3 separate regions of the Homo sapiens genome follow, and all the other regions are linked to region 1. A link means that fine-mapping ties the variant in region 1 to the expression of a gene that starts in the linked region. Tissue or cell type: fibroblasts. Region 1 holds a variant in brackets; each other region holds the start of a gene. All regions are shown on one strand. Distances are from middle to middle.

Region 1 (8,087 bases):
GAGGGGTGGGTGTCCGTCGAGGCCCACCCAAGGAAGCCGTGCTCAGCACTGCTCCAATCGCTCAGTGAGCACCACAGCAGAAGCTGGGTTTTTTAAATAAATGAATACTATACAAGGTCAATCTTGAAGACTCTGCTTTTAAAAAGGAAGCACTTGTGGAAATTGCTGGAAATGATGCAGGCCAGGCCTGCGGAGAGCAGAACTCAGGGAGGCCTCAGGGGTGTGAGGTCCTCATGGGTCCTCCTCTGTGGCAGCTGAGCCCTGAGGCCTGAAGACCAGCTCGATGCCTGGTCCCCTCACCTGGCACCAGGGGCTGATCATGGACCAAAAAGGGCGTCATCCCCAGCGAGCGGCCATCAGATCTCTCTCCTTAAATGCACGTCTCCCATCTGGACTGCTTAGGCTCTCTACTAAGAATCCTAAGCCTTTCTGTGTTCACCTGCAAACAGGAAGTCCTAGGTCTTCATAATAAATAGCCCATAAGATCTAGAACTTGGGTCATGGTTAAACCTCAGTGAAGATGAGCAAGTTTATAGTAAAAGGGAATATGGATGAAAAAGAGCAAGACTGCAAGGAAGGAGAAGGACAAACGTGGGGGCTGGGGGAAGAGAGAGAGAAAGAGGGAGAATAAGAGGAGAGAGAGAGAAAGGGAAAGAGAGAGAGAAAGAGAAAGAAGGAATGAGAGAATGAGAGAGAAAGAGAGAGAGGAGAGCACTCTGTTCCCACACTCAGGTCCCTTCAGGAATGAACACAGGAAACTAGGCTGGACGTGAGGTCACTGTGCCTCATTTATCGCCTGCCTCTAGGAACTGCCACCCTTAGGTCATCTGGGAGATGAGCATGGGTTTTGTGATTTCATGAGGGAAGGAGAGGAAAGCAACCCACCTCAGCTCAGCAAAATCCTCATTCCAGCTCTCTGGATATCCTCGCACTCTGGATCCCCTGTGTGGCAGAAGTCACAGATCACCCAGAACAGGGGAACCTGCATTTTTCTAGCAAATTTGCTATTCCTGCCAGGTGAGCATCCTGCCAGGTGAACATCCTGCCAGGTGAGCATCCTGCCAGGTGAGCAGGTGCCTTCTCTGGCAGATCAATGGCAGCCTTGTGGCTTTCCAGCACCCATCGCCCCCTCAGCCCACTCCATTCTATCACAGGAAGAGCAAATCACATTTTGGGAGATGCTTGGTACCATAGAGGGCATCTCCTTAGGCACAGGTGCTAGGACAGTGCGCAGGGTCACCTGCGGCAGAGCCCACCATGGACCCCCTCCTCTTCTTGGCCCCACAACACCTCATCACAGGTCCTGAGGTCCTGGGAGATGCAGACCCTGGCTTTCCAGCCACGGCAGCACTCAGTCACTGTAGACGTGGTCGCCAGGGGACGAGGTCACAGACATTCTTTTGGTGTCGTCCGCTGGAGATATGATCACATGCTCAACCCTGAAGCAAGAGAAACAAACTGAGAACAGAATTGGAGGCGGGAACGGGGAGAGCCGCTACGATCCACCAGCTCACCTGTGGAGAGAGAACCAAGGAAAAACAGTATTGATTTTTTTTACAAGCCAGTGCACAGATTTGTCAGACAAAAGAATAGAGATGTCAACCCCTGGACCCGCTCTCCAGCACGGCAGGCCTTCAGGCGGCCAGAGCCAAGGCGGCACTCCGCGACTCCTGCACTGGCTGCAGAGGGGATGGGCAGTTTGATGAAAGAAGGAAACGCCAGCCCTCGCACGGATATGCGTGTCAGTAACTCCCACCTGAGCAGAGCTCAGAGATGCTTCCAGCACAGCCCAAGAGAGGTGGCTCCCTGGTCTCAGCATCTGCCGAGGTTACCTCTCTCCTCTGGGGGCTGTGGGAGGCGCTTCTGCACGGGGTCACAGGAAGGTTTTGGATGTTTACCTGAAGGGCGGTTCTGTTAGAAAACTCCAAAACCAACGGACATTTTAGATTTCAAAGAGAATCCAGTACAACGTATTTTCATCTCCTAACCCAACAAAAGGGAATCTGAGCTGATTATTAGAAGTTTACTCTTTTACCTGGCAGGGGGCAAAGAGCATAGACATCCCCAGGTCTCCAGATGCACAGGTGGAGGAATTCGTCCACTAACGCACCCTCGGAACAAACACCTGAACACACAGGAAAACTCGGTGTATCTGGAGAAGGAATGTGTTCGTTAATTGCATTTTTGAATATCTAGCTAAGCACAACATCCCTTTAGAGTCCACCTGTCCTTTAAAATTCTTTCTAAAATAAATCTGACAATTTTCCTGATCTGCCATGCTGAATAGTTTGACGACATTGATCATTTGGGGAAATCGTGGCTGTCAGAGGCCATTCAGAAAATAATATTATGAGGATGAAGGACCACAGGTAGGGAGCCCCATAGAAGAGTTGGAACTGCTTCATTTTTGTGTTTACTCCTTTATTCAGGCTTGATAGGTTTCTCTGAGTTTTACCTTCCTCTTTCTAAGAAGGAAACTGCTGTCATGTAATTTAAAGTTCCCGTTGGTCATTTCTAATGAATAAAAGGTTACGAATGTCGAGTAGTAGTTGGGTGCCATGTAAACTAGTTCAACCATTGTGGAAGTCAGTGTGGTGATTCCTCAGGGATCTAGAACTAGAAATACCATTTGACCCAGCCATCCCATTACTGGGTATATACCCAAAGGACTATAAATCATGCTGCTATAAAGACACATGCACACGTATGTTTATTGTGGCACTATTCACAATAGCAAAGACTTGGAACCAACCTAAATGTCCAACAACGATAGACTGGATTAAGAAAATGTGGCACATATACACCATGGAATACTATGCAGCCATAAAAAAGGATGAGTTCATGTCCTTTGTAGGGACATGGATGAAGCTGGAAACCACCATTCTCAGCAAACTATCGTAAGGACAGAAAATCAAACACCACATGTTCTCACTCATAGGTGGGAATTGAACAATGAGAACACATGGACACAGGAAGGGGAACATCACACTCCGGGGACTGTTGTGGGGTGGGGGGAGGGGGGAGGGATAGCATTAGGAGATATACGTAATGCTAGATGACGAGTTAGTGGGTGCAGCACACCAACATGGCACATGTATACATATGTAACAAACCTGCACATTGTGCACATGTACCCTAAAACTTAAAGTATAATAATAATTTAAAAACAAATGGGTGGTCAACATTCTAACCTCTAAAATAATAGTTTCTGACAATACGATTGCTACATTTTTGAAAATTATCATAGCTAGGTCATCATACTTGGCATATACTCAAGTATGTTCTTTCATGTACATTTCTTAAACATGCATGTGTCTCCTGTGACATTTAGAGAAATGTCTCCTTAGACGCAATATTTCAAACATTAGAAAGTGCGGTCGCCTAAATTGCATTCACAGAGCTCCCTCGGCGGGATTCCTGAGTGCGATCCTGGGCGATCCCCCCACCGCGGTTTCTGGAAGACTCTGATGAACGCATCCACCAATGGGTGGGGAAATGAGGTCAGCATCCTGTGGTTCAAGGATCCTAGGATCAGTGACTGGGAGTTACAGGTTTGGGCATCACTCAGCATAAGTGGCTGTGAAACCCTAGGGCAGCGTCCCCTCTGAAAGCCCATCTGCTCGGACATGAAGTGCAGAAACTTGGGGTGAGTTGGGACACAGCTGGCTGCCCTGCCCAGCCTTGAGCTTTGGTTTTGCAGGAAGCCGGGTCCCAGCTAGTGGAGCGGGCTGCACTGTGGCCAGGGCGAGGGCCCAGCCCGGCTCCCCACCCACCGTCTGGTGACTGGGCCACGGCGCTGGGACTCGAGCGCTCCTAGTTCACAAGCCACCACCTCTGATGGGGAAACCAGACAGACGTGGCCAGAACTGGAGCACACCTTGTCCTTTCCCAGCCAGGGGACGCCAGTGTTCCTGTGGCCGGGGCCAGGGCTGGCCTGGCCGCCTCCTCCCCGATCCTGTCTCCTCTGGTGATGAGTTGTGTTCTCTTGGCAGTGGAACTCCCTAGAGAGTGGAAAACGTCATGCACTGACAACAGAAACAAAGTACAATGTTATCATGCAGTCAATATTTGATGGCCAAAGGCACAGTAAGGAATAATCTGAGTTAAAATAAAGCAGGGAATTGGATACATCAAAGAGTTTAGTGTTATCAGCCATTAAGGAAGGCAGCAGTGAGGCCACCACACAGCAGTGGCCTGGACAGACAGCCCTCCGTGCAGGCGTGTGCCTGTGAGCACCTACACATGCGTGGGGCACACCGGCTCCGGCGTCACACACTCCTGGACGTCCACTCTTGGTGAATCCTCACACAGACCTTTCCTGCCGGGATTAGGGCTTCCTTTCGGTTTTGTGTATCATGTGACACCCTCTGTCACTTGTGAGTGGCTTCCCACCATCTGAAAAGGTGCAAACTCATGGCCCACATCAACGACGCCCCGTGCCAGGACGCTCTCCCATGTGAAAGCTGGCTGAAGTCCTCGGTCTGCCCACGTCAACGACACCCCGTGCCAGGACGCTCTCCCATTTGAAAGCTGGCTGAAGTCCTCAGTCTGCCCACGTCAAAGACACCCCGTGCCAGGACGCTCTCCCATGCGAAAGCTGGCGGAAGTCCTCGGTCTGCAAGGCCATGAAGGAAAATTCTAGT[A/G]ACTAATTCCCACCAAGTCATCATTTAAGAATTGTTTTGAAGTTCTGCTGGAACACAGTGTGCATGGGTTTATATTACATTTTTGTTAGCTTTGTAAGTGGTGTATGAATCATGTTTGTTTTTATAAATGGTTGCTCTGGAGTTGACAATACACAGCATTAACTTATCAAGAATACCCAAGAATAACAAATAATATGGCATCACTTCCCATGTAATTTAATAATCTTACAACTGCCTGGTTCCATTTCCCACCTCCCAGCCCTTGTGCTATTGTTAGCAGACATTTTGCTTCTACTTATAAACCCCAAATGTATTATTATTACTGTTTAAAACAATGTTCAATAAAGAGATTTCAAAATACGGTAAAACACGCTTTGTATTTGCTGATGCATTTTACACCCACTCCTGTTCCTTTGTGTAGACCCTCATTTTTATTTCTTATCATTTCCCTCTGTCTGGAAACCAACTCTAAAATGTCCTTTAGTGCCTGGTGGTGCCGGCTGCTGACAGTGGCGTCTCTCTACTTTTGTATGTCTGAGACAGTCTTCACGTTGCTTCTATTTTTTAACAGCCTTATTGAGGCTGAATTTATATAAGAATTATACAATTGATATATACATTATACACATTTAAAATATAAAATTGGATAGATTTTTAAAGATGTAAAAACCCATAGAAAACACTGAATCTATCAAAATCAGGATATTATCCATCTCCTTGGGAATTTGCTTTGTGATAATGTTTTGAAATTGTTCCTTCTTACTCCTCCCCTCTCCCCCACCCTCCCTAGGCAATCACTGATTAACCTCTGTCTCTAGAGATTCATTTGCATTCTCTGTAATTTTATAAAATAAGATCATAATTATGTATTATTCTTTGTCTGGCTTTTTGGCTCAGCATAATTATTTTGAGATTTGTCCATGTTGTATGTCTCAACGGGTTTTTTTTAACCTTTATATCACTAAGTATTACTCCCCTGAATGGATGTATTAGTTTTTATCCATTCACTTGTTGATTAACATTTGGGTCATTTCTGGTTGTTAGCAATTACAGGTAAAGCTTCCATGGACATTTGTGTTCAAGTCTTTATAAACACACATGTTTTCATTTCTCCTGGGAAGTACATAGGGATGGAATTGCCATGTCAGATGGTAGTTATGTGTTTAACTTTTGAAAAAAAAACTATTTGCAGTATATTCATAACTGTGAATACACTTAATGTCACCGAACTATGCAATTAAAATAGGTTCGATGGTAAATTTTATGTTGTGTGATTTTTACTACAATTTTAAAAATAAAAATAAATAGATTTGAATGAAAAAAAATTAATGACAACACGTCGCCTCTCTTAGACTAGTCATTGTGCCATAATATCCATTATTTGCATCTATTACTAACGTAGTGAATACTTTTGAAGATCCATAAATGCTCTTAGATCAATAAATTCAGCTATTTCACTTTTTAATTACAGTATGATCAAGCATTTAGATCAATAGTAAAAAAGTCTTCCTTTGACTGATTGTCTCATGTATTAAATAGTAAAAACTGTCTTCATTTGACTGTTTCATGTATTAAAATATTATTACACATTATATATGATTTAAAAAGGAAATATACTATATCAGACCTTCAGGAAAATTTGACCTAGTTTACAGGAAACAAAAGATAATATAATTGAAAATTCAACAAAAGTACCCAATACAAGATTTTGACCAACAAGTATAGAGTATTATATTAAAAGATTCTTCACAATAGGCTGAGGTGGGCTTCGTGCCTCTGGTTTCTGCTGCGGTCTCATCTCAGTCTGCCAGGAACACTGGAAGCCATTTAACACCCGCTAAGATTTGCTTCTCCTTCTCCAGTCCTTTCTGATGTGATGTTATTCACACTTTTCTTTCAAGGACAGAATGCAGCTACTCACTTTAAAAACGTGCTTTGGAGCAGGAACATCTAGGGACACTGCTGCCTGATGGCCACTTAAGTGCTCAACCAAGCAGCTGTGTGTGGCTTGTGTGAAAGACTCAGAAGCAAGCTGCCAGGTGAGAAGGTCAGTGGGAAAAAGGAAAACTCATGTTAAATATGTGTGAAATGTGTGTAGAAAAGGCAGGCAGAACAAAGCTGCCTTAGAAATTCTATGAAGTCTAACACTTTGTCTAACACCCACATATTAAGTATTACACAGTAGTGTTTTGTCATTTATTGTATAATCCATACTTACTTACCTTTTGTTTGAAAATGTTTATATAATTTTGCAATAAACCCCTATACCATTAATAGGCTCAAAAAATAATATTAGGAGATTTTAAATAAAAATGGAAAATACAAAACTAAAAAAAATATAAAACTTTTCCAAAGCGGTTGTAACATTTAATATTTTAACCAGTGACATGTGAGCATTCCAGTTCCTATACAGCCTCACCAGCACCTGGCGTCATTAGTCTTTTTAATCTTAGCCATCTAATAACTGTGCAATCATGTCTCATTGAGGTTTTAACTTGCATTTCTCTAAGAGCTAACGGTATTGATCATCTTATCATGGACTTATTTTCCATTCACACATTTTCTATGGTGAAGTGTCCATTCAAACCAATAGATCATTTTTAATCACTGTCTCTTTTCATTTTATAGAGTTTTAACAGTTATCTAGCTAATCTGGTTAAAAGTCCTTTGCTGTATAAGAGAAGCAAATATTTTCTTCCAGCCAATGGCTTGTCTTTTCATTATACTAGCTGTGTTTTTCAAAGAGTAAGTGTTTTAATTTTTATGAAGTCATATTTATCATATTTGCTTTTATAGACCATGCCTTTCTTGTCATATTTAAGAAATCGTTGCCTAACTCAAGGTCACGAAGAATTTCTCCTAATTCCTTCCAAAAATGTTATGGTTTTAGCCTTTACATATAAGGCAATAATCTATTTCTGTGAGATGTATGGATCAAAGTATATTCTTTGCATGTGGCTATTTAATTGTTGTAGCGCCATTTCTTTAAAAGGCTGCCTTTTCTCTGCTAAAATGCCTTTGCATTCCTTTTAGAAATCAGTTATCTCTATAGGCTGTTGTCATTTTCTGGACTCTCTATTCCATTCCATTTATCTAGTTGTCTAGCTTGATGCCAATATCACACTTTCTTGATTATTGTAGTTTTAAGTCTTAAACTAGTGTTCATCCTTCAGCTTTATTCTCTGCTTTCAAAGTTGTTTCCACAATTAAAAGCCCTTTGCAATTTCAAATTAATTTTAGAATAAGTTCATCAATTTCTACAAAAATAAAAGCTTGCTAGTACTCATTGAGATAACATTGAATATGTAAATTTGGGAAGAAATTAAAACAATACTGAATTTTTAATCCCAAGAACATGATATATCTCTCCATTTGTTTAGATGTTCCTTAATTTCTCTTGGTGATGCTTTATGGATTTTAGTACACAGGACTTGCACATTTTGA
Region 2 (8,087 bases), 300 kb after region 1:
AATAGACGTACAAAAACTACACACTGGGAATGGATAACGTAACCAAGATTGAAGGAGAAGGGAAAATACATGATTTAGGGATAGCTACGGTGTTAACAAGAAGAACACCAGGCTAACCAAAGTGGGAAAAAGAATGAATAAGGTGGCTGTGAAGGACACTTCACAGCATCCTTCAGGAAGCAAATTCAGGAATCATGGAGGCATGCCTGATCTAATTACGAATTCAGGAGCTCATTGACATGAGTGATAGAGAAGGAGTCAGGTAAAAAAAAAAAATAGGCTGATTTAGGCAGAAGGATTCTAATTTCAACATTCTTTCTCCAGTGGTCACTCACAGGCACCTGAACTGATCTTCCCTTACAATGCATAGAGCTAACAGACCCACTAAGGGAAGAAAAACTCATGTGCCATTTTCAGCTTGTCAGTGTAAGTCCCTGTAAAAAACACACACTAATTTATTTGGTGAAAACTATAAAAAACACACCTCCAGGTGGTTAAAAGAATAATTTTTTTAAAGTTGATATGATTTACTTAAATCTGAGAGTCTCAGGAGAATAAGGGACAAGAATTTTAAAAAAGATCACTTCCATTTATATGCAAACCAGAACTACGGCTACAATGTTATGTATTTCAGGGGGAAACAAGTCAGAAATAGACACAATTAAGATTTTAAGAAAGGAAGAACCCCATCCAGAACTGTTAGGGTGCTTGCAATATGGGGAAAATTTATTTAAATCTTATATATTAATTTTTATTTCTTGTTGGTTACATAAAAGTTTTAGGAAAGCTTACCTCTCTTCACTAGATTTTTTACTCACCTCTTTCTGACGACCTACAAACCGAATTCTCCTGTAGTCTTTATCATCATAAACCTGGAAAAAAACAAAAAGACCATGTGTGACTTTTACGGCCTAATTCTGAAAGTCACTTCATATCAATCATAAATATTACAGGAAAGTGTTTTTCTTAACTTTTAGGCCATTGATGAAAAGTCAAACAAGTGCACAGTACTCGGTGTAATCAGGGGCATTTTTAGCGAGATACCTGGGATGAAAACGGGTGGTCACCTGGATCAGAGAGCAGCACAGAGACATAGCCCGGGAAGGTGGAGCTAAGGAGGAGAGACAAATCCTGACCGAGGAGAACCGCCCCCAACCTTCTTTGGCATATGGCCTGAGAGCTTTACTATCCCCCCATTAAATCTACTAGGGCACATTCCAGTATACACAGGTACCTTTGTTCTTCATTTTGGCTTAGGGCTTTTTTGTGCCTTGGACTACAACCGACTTCTCAGGTTACTAAAATTTATTATTGAATATTACACAAATTCTAAACGTTCTGACCCAAATAATCGGCTGCCACAAATCGCCTATGGGCAGCCAGTCCACAGCAAGTGCTGCCCGCTGGGGAGACTTCCCGTTCCAGAGCCCGCAGGCCCTGGAAGGACGAGACCCACCGCTACAGGCTGCCACCACCGTCCCGACTCGCGGGCGTCCTCCCCGGCGCGTGAGCGACAGCACAACCTTACCACGACCTGCGCTGCCGGCGCAGAACCAGGGCCGCGGATGCCCGGCGAGCCCACTGCCACCAGTCGCCCGAGGTGCGGCTGGAGGAAGGTGCATCCTGTACCCAGCGGCCGTTACCTGGCCAGTGTGCGTGACCTTCTCCCCGGTCGGCGAGACCCGCACCCCGAAACACCTGGCGCCCAGGGGCAGGCTCCGCGCCGCCTCGCCACACCGGTTCAGCAGCCGGCAGAAGGTCATCGCCGCCGCCATTTTGCGCCGCTGGCCTTTGACCCGGCGCAACGTCCCGCTTAGCGCTAACGCATGCGCACGGCTTCTGGCGGCGCCAAACACCCGGTATTTATTTCGCCCTGGGGGCGGGGAGCGCGGGTCGGGGCAGAGGGTGCGCCGGAGCTGCTCTCTGATTCAGGTGGTCACCCGTTTTCATCCCAGGTATCTCGCTAAAAATGCCCCTGATTACACCGAGTACTGTGCGCTTGTTTGACTTTTCATCAATGGCCTAAAAGTTAAGCGGCCCCGTTGCGCCGGCAGGTGCAGCCTCATGCAGTTGCAGCCGCAGGCTAGAGCTAGGGCCCTGATGAGGCAGGCAATGGTGTGCGAAACCTTCAGCGATTAGGAGTACCCAGTGGTTCTTATTTAGCGGACAGGCAGGGGAGGATGTAAACTGAAAATACATTGTTTATATTCTTATGGTAACCGATAATCATGAGACATTTAAATATCAAAATTATTGGGTGAAGGAGTCAACTGCTTAGCAGACGAGACTGGAAGTGCATTCTCCTCGTTCAAGGCAAGCGTTCCTGTGTGTGGTTACGGGGAGCCGCAGAGGAAACGTATATTGGGGATTTCTGCAACAAAGCCTAGTACACCGACTGATTTTACAGCATGCAAATACAGCCTCTAAAAAGGCCCGTTTTGCTTAGAGTTGACTTGGGTATAAATCCCAGCTTAAGCTCCAGCATCCAGCTTTTCTTTTGCTGTGGTCAGAGCCTGAGGACCACGTGACTCCAAGAACAAAACACTAGAGATGGATGAGTGGCGGGGAAGATGATAAAGAGGAGGAAAGGCATGAGAAACAAGAATGCACATGAAAACCTCCGGTCCCAAAGATGTCCCAGCAAACGTGGTGGTCAGAGGCAGATTTGTCCTGGAGCTGATAAACTCCAGCGGCCCGCCCGGTGTTCGCCGGGTCAGGTGGAAAAAGTGGGCGCTGCGATGAAGCGTTGGGGCCTGCAGGGAGCGCGGAGTGGACGCAGCCACGTCTGCAACTCACCCGGACACACACAAAAAGGAAGGCGAATGGAGTTACGGGTAGATACCTGAAAAGGCAGGGATAAGCGAGCTAAGGGTAGAATCTAGGTGGCAAGTATATGGGTGTTCACCGTACAGTTCTTTCCCTTTTTCTCTATGTCCGAAGTTTTTCATAATGTTGGGGAAAACAGCCGTAACCAGTTGAAACTACTGCCCGTCTCCACTCGTTTCCCGGAGCCTGTTTACATTTCTCCTGTCCACTTAAAAACATGTCCTCTTTCTCAGTTTGTTTTGACATTGGTATTTGCCAGTTTTTTCTAAGGCCTAAGTGGTTGTAATTTCTTTTTCGTTGCGGATATCCATTTTCGTTCCTGGTTTTTGCATTTTTTTTCCCGAGAGCGCTCCAAACAGCACGACGATCCCGGTGGCCCGCAGAGTGCGCGCAGTCGGGGAGTGATACGTCGCACTCCAGCGCCTGCGCACTCGCTGCTGCGTCTCTGCGCCCCGCACTGGACGTGGGCACGCCACGTGACCCCCCCCCCCGCCGCCATCTTCCTTCCTGGCAGCAGCGTCCGCGTGCCAGTGCGCAGACGCAGGGGTCGGCGCCGGGTGAGAGCGTGCGGCCGGGTAAGGGAGCCGTCTTCTCAGGTCAGGGGTCCCGGGTGTCTTGAGAGTGGGGGCTGCGAGAGGGTGGGGCCGGCCACCTTGGGACCCTCGGGCGTGTCTCCCCGAGTGGGCTGCGGTCAGAGGAGCGTGGGCCGGGGCCTGGCGGTCTCAGAGGGCCAGGGTTGGGGGGTGCGGGTCCGACCGTGGGCGCCCGACCTGGCGACAGGAGGGGGTGTCCAGCGACCCCGGGGCGGGAGAACTGGCGGCTCCCGAACGCGACCTCACAGCCCGCGCGCAGGGCCGGCTCCGGTGCCGCAGTGTCCTCCGGGCCCTGCAGGCCCAGCTCTTCCCAGCCGGGGCCGCTGAACCCTAAGGGCCGGGGCGCGTGGGGAAGCAGGGGCGGGCGACCGGGGTGCCAGAGTTCCGTGCTCTTCCGGAGCGGGGGCCTGTCCCGAAACTGGCCCGAGGGAGGGCCCCTGGGTCTGGGAAGAGTTGGAGGGAGGAGCTCATCAGTTGAACCGTCCTTGACCTGGTGTCTGTTTGGAAAGGGATGCGGCCTAAGTTTAAGCTCCCTCCCAGCCAAGTGAGCGGCTCCTCAACATCGCAGGGCTTTGCACACTCACCTACACTTGCAGCAGGCGGGAAAGGGAAGGAAGCCACCGTCCACTGCCCCTTATTCTCCTGGCACACTTGGCTGATTAAGGCAGTGTTCAAGCTCAGGTCGAGGCTGCAGCTGGTATGGGAACACCCTCAGTCCCCGAGGTCCCTGCCTTCCCAAGCCTCAGTGAAACAGAGAAAAGGAAGCCTTAAAGAGCAGGTGGAAGTGCAGGAGAAGCTATAACTCCTTTTTTTCTCTCTCCCATAGATTCACCACAACATGGCAAATCTTTTTATAAGGAAAATGGTGAACCCTCTGCTCTATCTCAGTCGTCACACGGTGAAGCCTCGAGCCCTCTCCACATTTCTATTTGGATCCATTCGAGGTGCAGCCCCCGTGGCTGTGGAACCCGGGGCAGCAGTGCGCTCACTTCTCTCACCCGGCCTCCTGCCCCATCTGCTGCCTGCGCTGGGGTTCAAAAACAAGACTGTCCTTAAGAAGCGCTGCAAGGACTGTTACCTGGTGAAGAGGCGGGGTCGGTGGTACGTCTACTGTAAAACCCATCCGAGGCACAAGCAGAGACAGATGTAGACCCTTTCCCTCCAGAGTCACGCACATACTCGTCATCGCATCACTTGGGAGAATGGTTGTATCTTATGGAAGGAATTATCACATCAAGGAGTCAGGGGAAAGTGACTGGAAGCAAACGCCCTAAAAGTTACCCATCACGTTTCAGTGTAAATGAGTAACTATAGAAGACATTGCGTTATCTTATTTCCAAAACGTTCCAACTAAAAAACATTTTCCTATTAAAATAGACCTTCCGAATAGCTTAGTTCATTCATTCTCTCTGAACTCAGGCTGCAGGTAGGGATTGGATGGTGCTGGGTGAGGCTGGGCAGGACTTCTCTATGTCTCCGTGAGGCTGCTTAGAGCCTCTTGGAAGAAGTGGTGTTTTGGTCACCCGTCGCTGTACAAGCCAAGGCTTGGTGGCTTAAATCAGCCATTTTACATTGTTCACGATTTTGTGAGGCATTTGGGATGGGCTCAGCTGAGCAGTTTGTCTGATCTGTGTGGCATTAACTGCAGGACCCACTTCCAAGATGGCACCGGCTCTCCTGTCTGGGGTCTCAGTGCTCCTCAGGCTGTACGTAGCACCTCCTCAGGCAGGGCCCACAGCGTGGCTTGCACTGCCCCACAGTGAGCTTCCCGAGAGTGTCCCGAGAGACCCAAGCAGATGCTACGAGGCTTCCTATGACCCAGCCTCAGAAATTCCAGCGTGTCATTTCTACCGCACTCTTTCAGTCCCTAGGGTGAGCCCAGATTCAGGGGGAGGCAAGGAGCTCCCCTTGCTAGAGGATGACCACACCTACAACTGGTAAGGACTTGGAGGGATGGAGTGGGCTGGTCCTTCCCTGGTCATCGGGATTCATAGTTGAGTGAGCCCCATGCCTTGGGGGAGCACTGTCATCAACATGAATTTGGGGGTGGGGAGCACAGTCCAACCCAGAGCAGATGCTGAGATGCGACAGCCTTCTCACGGCTCCTTTCCTCCTGGCCAGGGACACCTCCCCTTCTCCCAGAAAGGAGTTTTGTGAGACAGGAGACCACGCAAGAAGCCTAGCGCGGGGGGAGCGCCCTCCTGCCCAGATCAGCAGCAGGGGCGCAGCAGGGTCACCCAGAAAGGCCTGGTGGGGCGGCAGAGGGGGCAGCATGGCCACATGAGGGCCAAAGCTCCTCCCCAGCACCCACATCACTTCTCCAGGGGGAGCAGACGCCGGTGTGTGTTGCTGTGAACTCTGTGCTGTGCCCATTCACCCTCACAAAGGGCCTCTGCAAGCAGCTTGACATGGGCATTGCAGCCCGCAGGCGTCTGGCCAGTTGAAGAAGGTGGAGAGCGTTATTACCTGAAAGAAAAGGGAACCAGCTCTGCGAAGAGCCTGCTTCTGTTGTGCAGTGAAAGGGAAGCCCTCTCTCGAGCCGTTCTTAAGTGAGGAGTTGATGCACTAGAGTGTCTGTCACGGGGGCCCCTGAAAGTGTCAGAAGCCAGACCCCACTAGGAGACCTGTTATGCACTGGGGCTGAGAATAGTTCAGCAAGAGAGAGGACTTTCCTCAAGCGTGTGTGTGTGCGTGCATGTGTGTATATGGCACGTGTGTGTGCATGCATGAGTGTGTCCACATATATACGCGTGTGTCTGCATACACTACCTGAACAGGCAGTGTGGGAGGGTGTGATGGGTCAGTGGCACCGCTGTAGTGACCCTCAGCAGACTGCAACCTTCAGCCAGCGTGTGCTGTCCATGTCTCTGATCTCTCACGGGGTGGGTGATGTGGTTTTGAGAACCACAGGGTCCTGACAGCCCCCAGCATGGCTTGCTGATGCTTCCCGAGCACCCTTAGCCTGGGCCCTGGGGTGAGGAGGAGAAGAGGTGCTGCTGCCCTCACACCCTTACTGCGTAGGAGCGTGTGAAACAGGCTGGTGAGTGCTGTGTGTGAAGCATGCCAGGCCCTCCAAGGCAAGAGGTCAAGGATGCTCCCTGCAGGGGATGACGGCCAAGCTGAAACTTTGGTTGCAGGGGAGGCAACCCGAGGAGGGGCCTGAGGCTGGGCACGGGCAGGGGGCATCCAAGCCATCCTGCGTGGATGAAAACTGGGTGTGTTTCTGCAGTACGCAGTGCTCTGGGGGGAGACCTGACCACCGGCTGCATGCCTGCAGTTGGGTGTGATGTGCTTACGTGCCATGCAAACGTGGGCACACAGTCGTGGCCTCTTGACAATTGCACAGACAAATCCCCAGCAAGGCAGCGTGGCACAGGAGCCAACAGGAAGGAATAAAGAAGGCATGGATTTCATGGCACGCTTGATCCAACGGGGAAAGGTGGGATTCTGCTAATTTTGCTTGAGTAGAAATCTAAGGCTGATAATTACCTATCCAGGCTTCAGTCCAGAATAAGTGATTAATAAAAGAATTCTGCAGAACCAGGCCAGGAATCCTGGGCATCGGCACTGTGGACATCTGGGGCTGGGTTGTGCTCCGGGCCCATCCTGGGCACTGCCGGGTGTTCAGCATCCCTGGGCTCCACCACAAGATGTCGGGAGCACCCCACACACAAGCAGGGCCAACCAAAAGTGCCCCAGACACTGTCAAGCACTCCCTGGGGGGCAACACGTTTCCCCATCAATGAACCAGGGTTGCTGCCGCCTGCCATGACGAGGGCTGGGATGCAGGTGCACCACTGGGAGGTGATCTCGGAAGTCAGGATGGGGAGTGGGGATGTGAGTCAGGGAGGGAGAGGAGCTTCCAGGGCACAGAACCAGAGCGACACCGGGTGCCACCTTGTTGTGTCCCCTGAGCTCTGGCGGAATGGACCTTGGTGTCCTGTAGGGGATGAGGACTGGGGGGGGGGGGGCGTTTATCCACAGATGCTCGTCACTGGTGGTTGAGGGTGACCGTGTGGGGACTTAAATCCCAGGCACTTCCAAGCCACCCAAAGGTGGGCTGAGCAGGTCCTCATGGGCACAGAGAAAGGCGACTGCAGAGAGAGGAGGAGTGGGCACGTGGGCCGGCAGGGTCATCCTGTCAGGAGCTGTCCCTGCACTCGCGAGACCTACGGGTGGCCTGGGGCCCTGCCAGATGCCAGCCCTGTCTTGCCAATGTCCTCCCTGTCTCCTGAAGGTGTGGTGCCAATGAACTGAAAGACGGATTGAAAATACTGTGAGAAGTTAGAAGTGCTATTCAGGTGTACGTTATTAGGTTATTCTCTGAGGGACTTTTAAAGTAAGATCAACTGGGGACAGCAGTGCAAGTGAAGGAAGAGTAAATGATGCCCAGATGGAGAGAAGAACATAGGAGCTGTCTATGCATTTCCAGAAGGAGGCGAGGTGCTCTGTGGGACGCTGTCATGTTTGTATCCACCTAGGAGGCTACTCACGGACCAGGTCTAACTGATGGACCACCCACCTGGCAGCGTCGCTGTCACTCACCCAGGAGAGTGGGAGGCGAGACCGGCACTCCCAGGGTCCAGGTCTCCTTCCTGTGCCGGACCGGTGGGGGCTGGGGCTTCCCTGCCTCCCTGCGAGTGGGCATGGCTGTGAGACCTGCTGTGG
Region 3 (8,087 bases), 660 kb before region 1:
GATGCTCCTCTGCACGTGTTTTCCAGGAAAACATTTAGGCCTCGGAAGCGTCTTTGAGAGCCTAGAAATGCCGGTTGAGCGTGAAATCCAGTCCAACCTACTCACAGAGTACTAGACCTAGAAACGACGTTTGAAAGAGATGTGGGTTCCATGTTGACTTAAATTTTGTTCCATTTATAACAACGCTTTTGTTTTCAAAGAAAAGAAAAATTTCTTAGCCAAACTTCTCATGTCCCCGGCCCCCTGTTCCTGCCTCGCTCTCTCCCTCGACAAACGCGGGGAGCCCTGGAACGGGAGGGCCGGTGACCGCGAATACGGTAGCGATGTGATTTGATGCACTGAAACTACTTACATTTCCAATGTTACTTCATTAAAGGAAACCCACATAAAAGCGTCTGTTTCATCTTAATTGCCAAAAAAGTTTGCCACACCCCCGAACGGTAACTGTTTCCCCGCCAGACACCGAAAGCTCATAAGGAACCACAATGAGAAAGGATCAGGAGTCGCTTAGGTTTTATTGAAATGCCTCGATGCCGTTTTTTCTTCTTCCCCGAATTAAGCCGCCGGGGGAGGAGGTGGGTCGCGCCCACCGTTGCCGGGACTCGGGCCGGCAGACACGGGCCACAGCGCCCCCTCGCCGCCCGCGCGCACGACTCCTGGCCTGCGTCGCCTCCTTCCGTCCCCGCGACACGGAGGACGGCGCCGCGCCCGGCGAGCGCCCCGGCCTTCTCAGTCGGCCGCGTCCCCGGGGAGACCCCGAGCCCGAGCCTCCGGGGCCGGCTGTTCCTCGCGCTCGGCCTCGCAGGAAATCCCCGCTCGCTGAAACTTGCGTGTCCACGTAGACTCGTTCTAAATTCTTTGGCTGTTGCAGGGACAATAAAGAAAAATAGAAACAGTGTTAATTTTTTCCCCACCTCCTAGGGCACACCTAGGAAAGGGGGCAGGGCCCACCAGGAACCTGAAACTGCCCCCATCGCCTGGGTTATTGTGACCAGGGGTCGCGTTTGCAAAGCAGTTACTGGGTTTTCCCTGCGTGCCTGCTCATTCCCTCCCTCCTGCTCGGACGGCAACTGAAAAGCCTCAGAAGCCAAGTGCCGGGCTCTCCCCAGCGACCCCACAGGCCTGAGCACCCCGCCTCGCCCTTGAGCAAAACATCCCAGGCCCTCCTCTTCGGGAGCCGCGGCCTTGCAGCCCTCGTGGCCCCGAGACGGAGTCTGGGCTGAGCCCGCCACCCTCTCAGGCAGCCTCGCCGGGACCGCCGCGCCAAGACTCCACGCTGGCAGCATGTTTTCTCATGATTGATTTTTTTTTTTTTTAAGAAGAAGACCAAGCCAACTTTAACTTAAGAAGAAGGAATGTGATTTTTTTCTTTAATATCAGAGAGCTTTAAAGCAAAACGTAGTTTATATATTTCAATAACAATGACGAGTGTTAAGTTTTTAATGTCCCTGCGTAGGCATTTTAATTTGCTACAGTCACTACCAATAAAAACGGCATGTAGTAAGAGTCGACTGTTTAATAGTGCAAGGTAGACGGTTTTTATTAGTAACAGGCAGCAGCGGTATGGAACATATAGATTTCAGTGGAGGAGTATAATTGCTAAGGGGAAAATACACACAGGACGGGAAGAGGCCATCTTCAAACTCCCAACACTGAGCTAAAGAGGGGGAAGGGCAGGCGGCGTTTCTGGAGATGCACCCTGGGTGAGGGGACCCTCCCCGCCACTGCACGTGTCTGGTTATATATTTAATTGATGTCAGAATCGACTGTATCCAGAGCAGACACTCCAGCTCCAAACTGAGGATGTTTGTATAATAACTGGCTGTTTTCTCTTCTGCCCCTGGCAGAGGTCCGGCGGGGGGAGGGGGGTGGGTCAAGGGAGGGGGAGGGAGGATGAGCCCCAAATGCTAATGAAACCACAGCGGGAACCGCTCTTTAGAAATGGAAATACTCCAGGCCAGTGCTCCCTGGTGATAAAAATTACACCCGATTTTTTTTTCATTTAAACTGATCTGATCGTAAAGGAACCCTAAAGGTTGCCATCTGATCTGACAGTGTTTGTGTTTGCCATCCAGCGTGTGGGCCTCTCATTTACCCCTCTTCTTGGAGGAATTCCCTCCCAGGAAGCGCAAAAATGTCGCAGACTGTCGACGGCTTGCCCAACCCGGCTGCTTTCTCTCTCTCTCTGTTTTTCAGCTCTATAGTAATTGATTAAAAATATCTGTCCTGGACTGAATTAGGATGTCCCATGTGGAGTCGCAACAAGGTTGAAACCCCCCGCTGGGTCGTTGCAGGGGGCCCAGCCTGTGGGAACGGGGTGTCTGTGGGTGGAGGGAGAGGTGGTCGTGGGTGTGTGTGCGTGTGCGTGTGTTGAGATGGCCTGAAGAGGATGTGTGCAGGATGGGGGTGTGGTTTGTAGGAAGAGTGGTGGGGGAGCAGTGTGGGCGAAGGGGTGGGTGGGATAACTGGTAGGGGGCGAGTGGCTCGGCTCGGGAGCTCCTGGCGGGAGGGGTAACGTGCCTGGACCGCGCCTACCGGGAGCCTGCCGGCTCAGGAGGAGCCATCCTCAAGCACAGCACTGCAGTTTGCAACTGGTTCCCTTGCACCTGGGGAAAGACAGCCTGATGCCGTGAGTGTTTCTCTTGCGCCCTGGACCAGACTGGCAACCCGGGCTCCGCTCCCTCCGCGCCGCTGCAGCCGCACCACAGGGAGGCCGCAACATGCCCTGCGTCCTGAGATCACTAAGGCTGCTCCGCAGGCTGCAGGGCCAGCAGGGGTGCAGGAGTCGGCTGCAGGCCTGAGCTGAGGCCCGCCCCAGGCCACTGCGCTCTCTCTTCTCCACCGCACCCACCCGAGACGGCTTCCGAGGATAGAGGCACCTGCTGGGTGGGTGCTCCCAATAGGCCAGCACAGACCTGACACTCTTCCATCCCCCTGAGCGCCCCCCATAGGTGACCCTTCGGAGTGGGCAGCCAGACGCCCTCTTCGGCCATCCCCGAGTGGAAAAGGGTTGGAGAAGCGTGATGGGGAGAGGGTTCTAGGAAGCTGGGGTCCTAGGAACCCTCGCCAACCGCCTCGCTTCTGAGCCCCGCAAGGCAACCGCCCCCCTACTCCAGCCGCGCGTCACCTGAGCTACCTGTAATGCCCACTGCACCGGCGGCGCCAACCTGAGCTCCTGCCCGTTCTCGACGTGACTGGGAGGCTTCAGGTCCTGCCAGAGGCGGTTTGTCAGGTAACAATCATCCCCCCAGTGTTTTGACAACACAAATCTGAAAGAGGAGTCAACTTAGAAAAACAAAATAAAATAAAACTCTTTAGGGGACGGCGTCTTCTTAGCTGAAGCCCTGGCGTCATTCCCAACAGTGGAAAGTCGTAACGTTCAGGGCCCCGGGGGTTGCGCTGCGGATTTGGGGGCAGAAAGCTCACCTCAGGGCCCTCCTGGCAATTCGCAACCAAGGCGCCCCGGATCCAGGTCCATGCTGGGCGGAGTGGACCGCGAGGGGTAGGCGACCAGACGCGAGGCCACGCGGGGAGCCTCGGGCCAGGAGGCAGAGCAGGTCCGGGACCGTGGAAGTGAGAGCCGCGCGCACTGCCCGGAGGAAGACCCGAGCCGCGGGCGCCACCATCCTGACCTCCCCACTTCCCTGCGACTTCCGGATTGGACACAGGGGCCGGGCCTCCTCGGGGTGCACAGCGGGGCAGGCTGTGAGTCCCCTAATTGGACCCGGCCTGGCCTGACCGCGGGCGGCCTCTGCCTAGTCCGTGAGGGTGGAGAAGGGGGTGGGGGCGGGGTAGTGGCTGGAAGGGGCGGGGGCCGGGCAGGGGCGAAGACGGTGGCCGGGGACGGTGGGAGCCGGCCGGAGCCGGGCAGGGGACGTGGCTCCGAGTGGATGGGAGTGGGAGGGGTGCGCGCCGGGGCACGCAGCGCGGCCGGGCTGGGCTGCAGGTCCGCGAGCCGCGGGCTGGGGCCGGAGCTGCTAGAGAGGCGGCTGCGCCACAAAAGCCTGCCGGTCCCTCCCGCCGCCCGCCTCCGTCGCCTCCGCCCTCCCCCGCCTCCCTCCCGTCTCTCTGCCCCTCCCCCGGCCGCGGCCCGGAGGCTGCAGCGGGCGGAGCAGGGGAGGGGCGGGCCCCCGAATATGCAGATGAGCGCGTGATGGACAGCTGCGCGTTCCAATGTCCCTCGGAAACTCGAGCGCTCCTTCCTCAACTCCTCACTCCCGACTCCAGACTCCCCCAAACCCCGACCGCCGGCCTGGCGCGCGGCTGCGCCCACCGGCTCCGCGCTGCTGCCGCCGCCACCGCCACCCCGCCGCCGCCCCGGCCCGCGGGCCGCCCAGGCTAGTACCCGGGCCGGCCTGCCTCCGCCGGCCGTCCGGGTGCCCGCCGCCGCGCCGCGCCCCGGCCGGGCGTGGATGGAGGGCGCCGCGCGCCCTGCCCGCTGCTCGGCGTGACGCGGGCCCCGCGCCCCGCGCCCACCATGTCCTACCCGCAGGGCTACCTGTACCAGGCGCCCGGCTCGCTGGCGCTCTACTCGTGCCCGGCCTACGGCGCGTCGGCTTTGGCGGCTCCGCGCAGCGAGGAGCTGGCGCGCTCGGCGTCGGGCTCGGCGTTCAGCCCCTACCCGGGCTCGGCGGCCTTCACGGCGCAGGCGGCCACCGGCTTCGGGAGCCCGCTGCAGTACTCGGCCGACGCCGCCGCCGCCGCCGCCGGCTTCCCGTCCTACATGGTAACCGGGCGCGGGCGGGACGCGGGACTCCTGGGCGCCGGGACCCAGACGGGGCTCAGGCGGAGCGGGGCTCGGGTTCGGCGGGCGGGGGCCGCCGGGAATGTGGCGCGGCTGGCGACTCAGGAGTCGCCGGCTCGGTTGGCCGCCCCGCAGGCTGAGCCGGGCCCCGGGTGGGGAGGGCAGCGCGGCAGGCGGGGACGTCCCTGAGCCCGGCCGGGACCCGCGCGCCCCCCGCGCGTCCCCTCGGCTCGCCGGCTGATTTTCTCTGAGAGCCTGGGAAGTGCGTCTCCGCCGGGGCCGGGGTCTGGCGCCGTTTGTCCCTGGTTTCCGCACCGCAGCCTGGGGAGGCGTTCGGAGCGGGCTGTGTGCTCGCCTGCATTGGCGTGGGGCGCGAGGGTCCGCGTCACTGCGGCCTCTGAGCCGACGGCCGGGCGGTTCGCATTCACTCGCGGGGCTCAGGGCGGTGGGGGTCACCGAGTTAGGCCCAGGAGCCGAGCATTCAGCTGCGGCTCCGGAGTCCGGCCCGAGGCGCCCAGGTTTCGGCCTTACTCTGTCCAGCGGACCATGCTTTCAAATATCGTGCTTGCGGGCGCGTGACCCGCTAAGGGCCGCCTGAGTCCTCCGTGGCCCGAGCGCAGCTCCTGCTCCGGCGACCTGGGGGCGGCTCGCGAGTCTCGAGGTTACTGAGCTGGGCCAGGCCCGGGCCGCGGCGAAGCACGTTACGGGCGATTGAGGCCATTACGGGGTTGTCGCGACTGCCGGCCCTCGGCGGAATTTCTGGGCAGCGACCGAGTCGCTGGGGCCTTGGCGAAGGCTGCAAATGCCTCGAATTTAAACGTTAAAGGATGAATTAAAATGCTAATTACGGCGTATTTGAAGAATTCGAAACGGTGACTGGCTTCTGAGTTGCAAATTGGATTTGCCCAGCTTTAGAGCAGTGAATAGTGAATTGGGGGCTCTGGGGTGTTTTTTTAACCATATAAGGGAGGGGAAGAGGGAGTAGGGGGAGGCAGCCGCACTCCAAGCATCTGCAGAAATTTAGATATCAAAGAGCTACCTGTGGGCCTGTGTGCGCGCACGTGCAAGGGTTTGTGTACATTGCCACGAGCGGCTCCGGAACACTTAGGGGAAGATGGGTCATTTTAGGAAAGTGAAATAGTTCAGAAATTCGAGAATAAAACTCCGGTACTTTTTGTGATCAACAGCTGGTCCCGAATCACACTGCGTTTTTCCTGCTCTTTTGCGGCGGGAAGCGCAGCCCCAGAGCCAGACTCACGGGGGGAACGGTGGCCGTGGGCGGGCGGAGGGGTGGCATCCTCTGGCTGGTTGCCCGCGGGGTCTCCGCATACTCCACTCACAGGCTCTTGTTGGTTCCAGGGCGCACCCTACGACGCGCACACCACCGGCATGACCGGCGCCATCAGCTACCACCCGTACGGCAGCGCGGCCTACCCGTACCAGCTCAACGACCCCGCGTACCGCAAGAACGCCACGCGGGACGCCACGGCCACTCTCAAGGCCTGGCTCAACGAGCACCGCAAGAACCCCTACCCCACCAAGGGCGAGAAGATCATGCTAGCCATCATCACCAAGATGACCCTCACCCAGGTCTCCACCTGGTTCGCCAACGCGCGCCGGCGCCTCAAGAAGGAGAACAAGATGACCTGGGCCCCGAGAAACAAAAGCGAAGATGAGGACGAGGACGAGGGCGACGCTACCAGAAGCAAGGACGAGAGTCCCGACAAGGCGCAGGAGGGCACGGAGACCTCGGCAGAGGACGAAGGTGAGCGGGCAGCGGCCGGCGCAAGGTCTCGGGGCGCTTTCTTCCCAGGCGGGGCGCAGAGCTAAGGCGGGGAGGACGTTGCCCGCCGGACACCCCAGGTCCGGGCCGGAGCCCCAGCCGCACCACATTGCCCTGGGGTCGCCGGGATTTGAGCGAGCGATTCCTCGGGCCCTTCCCGGGGAGGTCAGGCTCCGCCTGTCACGTGGCCGGGTGGGGGCGAGGTGAGGGGTCCCGTGGGGAGGGCCCAGTGCCGCAGGACAGGGGGCGGAGGGGGCTCCAGGTGCCTGCGCTGTCCCCTCGTGCCACCCACCGTGCCCGCGCCCCCACAGGGATCAGCCTGCACGTGGACTCGCTCACGGATCACTCGTGCTCGGCCGAGTCGGACGGGGAGAAGCTTCCGTGCCGCGCCGGGGACCCCCTGTGCGAATCGGGCTCGGAGTGCAAGGACAAGTATGACGACCTGGAGGACGACGAGGACGACGACGAGGAGGGCGAGCGGGGCCTGGCGCCGCCCAAGCCCGTGACCTCGTCGCCGCTTACCGGCTTGGAGGCGCCGCTGCTGAGCCCCCCGCCCGAGGCCGCGCCCCGCGGTGGCCGCAAGACGCCCCAGGGCAGCCGGACGTCTCCGGGCGCGCCGCCCCCCGCCAGCAAGCCCAAGCTGTGGTCGCTGGCCGAGATCGCCACGTCGGACCTCAAGCAGCCGAGCCTGGGCCCGGGCTGCGGGCCACCGGGGCTGCCCGCGGCCGCCGCGCCGGCCTCAACCGGGGCACCGCCAGGAGGCTCGCCCTACCCTGCCTCGCCGCTGCTGGGCCGCCCCCTCTACTACACGTCGCCCTTCTACGGCAACTACACAAACTACGGGAACTTGAACGCGGCGCTGCAGGGCCAGGGTCTCCTGCGGTACAACTCTGCGGCCGCGGCCCCCGGCGAGGCCCTGCACACCGCGCCAAAGGCGGCCAGCGACGCGGGCAAGGCGGGCGCGCACCCGCTCGAGTCCCACTACCGGTCCCCGGGCGGCGGCTACGAGCCCAAGAAAGGTAGGCGGCCCGCGGCCGGCGGCGCCCGGGAGGGGAGGGAGAGCCAGCCCCGGGGAGGCGGAGCGCCCGGGAGACCCGAGGGAGGGTCCGGGAAGAAGATCCAGGGGGCCACTCCTGGGACCCAGAATTAGCAGAGTGAGGGCGGAGGGCGAGATGGAAGCCAAAGAAGGTGTGGCCCTCTTTTTAGACTTGCCCTGTTATTATTTATTTTTACTTAATTTACTGTTATTTTGACTATTACTATCGTGGCTGTCTTAGTTTCGGCAAACCCAGATTGCCACGAAATTCAAATTACAGCGTGTCGCCCTAATGAGCCTGGGTGTGTTTCGGTGTCTTGTTAAGGAGTCAGAGTTGAATCCGCTTTTCTGCCGTTGGCTAGAGGCAAACAGAACGTTCCAGTTACTCTCAGAGGCGTTTTGTCTTCAAAAGATAAAATCAAATGTTTTTTCCGCTTTTTGTTGTTGTCGTTGTTCGGAAAGAAAACCGTTTTTTCCCCTGTGCTATGTTGCCTGTGTTGCTCCTAAGTCAGGCTACCCGAAAG

Which allele goes with the higher level. Alleles are on the strand shown, and positions count from the first base shown. SD is a standard deviation of normalised expression in the study named. Not every link is listed here.
With allele A in place of G in region 1, the expression in fibroblasts of the gene that starts at base 4,214 in region 3 is lower (moderate effect, 0.40 SD a copy in GTEx).

Evidence for each region. PIP is the estimated chance that this variant, and not a neighbour inherited with it, causes the effect.
Region 2: MRPL36 starts here. The variant in region 1 is fine-mapped to the expression of MRPL36 in fibroblasts (GTEx, PIP above 0.99).
Region 3: IRX2 starts here. The variant in region 1 is fine-mapped to the expression of IRX2 in fibroblasts (GTEx, PIP above 0.99).

What each region holds. Positions count from the first base shown.
Region 1 is chr5:2,090,591-2,098,677 of GRCh38, reverse strand. It overlaps LOC105374618 (a long non-coding RNA gene), which reads right to left. Exons shown (of 13, transcript NR_171679.1): 8 at 2,036-2,152; 9 at 886-1,439. Among named protein-coding and RNA genes, the nearest start is that of CTD-2194D22.4, 210 kb to the right of the region's middle. The variant A/G (reference allele first, on the strand shown) is at 4,644.
Region 2 is chr5:1,795,106-1,803,192 of GRCh38, reverse strand. MRPL36 (mitochondrial ribosomal protein L36) reads left to right here and starts at 3,356. Exons shown (of 2, transcript NM_032479.4): 1 at 3,356-3,401; 2 at 4,246-4,808. The coding sequence starts at 4,258. The coding sequence ends at 4,569. It overlaps NDUFS6 (NADH:ubiquinone oxidoreductase subunit S6), which reads right to left and starts at 1,786. Exons shown (of 4, transcript NM_004553.6): 1 at 1,644-1,786; 2 at 819-872. The coding sequence starts at 1,775. RefSeq lists enhancers at 1,407-1,546, 990-1,977, 2,157-2,286, 2,347-2,396 and a silencer at 3,477-3,886.
Region 3 is chr5:2,747,804-2,755,890 of GRCh38, reverse strand. IRX2 (iroquois homeobox 2) reads left to right here and starts at 4,214. Exons shown (of 4, transcript NM_033267.5): 1 at 4,214-4,726; 2 at 6,104-6,509; 3 at 6,839-7,546. The coding sequence starts at 4,478. It overlaps IRX2-DT (IRX2 divergent transcript), which reads right to left and starts at 3,998. Exons shown (of 4, transcript NR_122126.2): 1 at 3,427-3,998; 2 at 3,137-3,211; 3 at 2,536-2,606; 4 at 1-862. RefSeq lists enhancers at 3,175-4,099, 6,185-7,129, 7,130-8,075.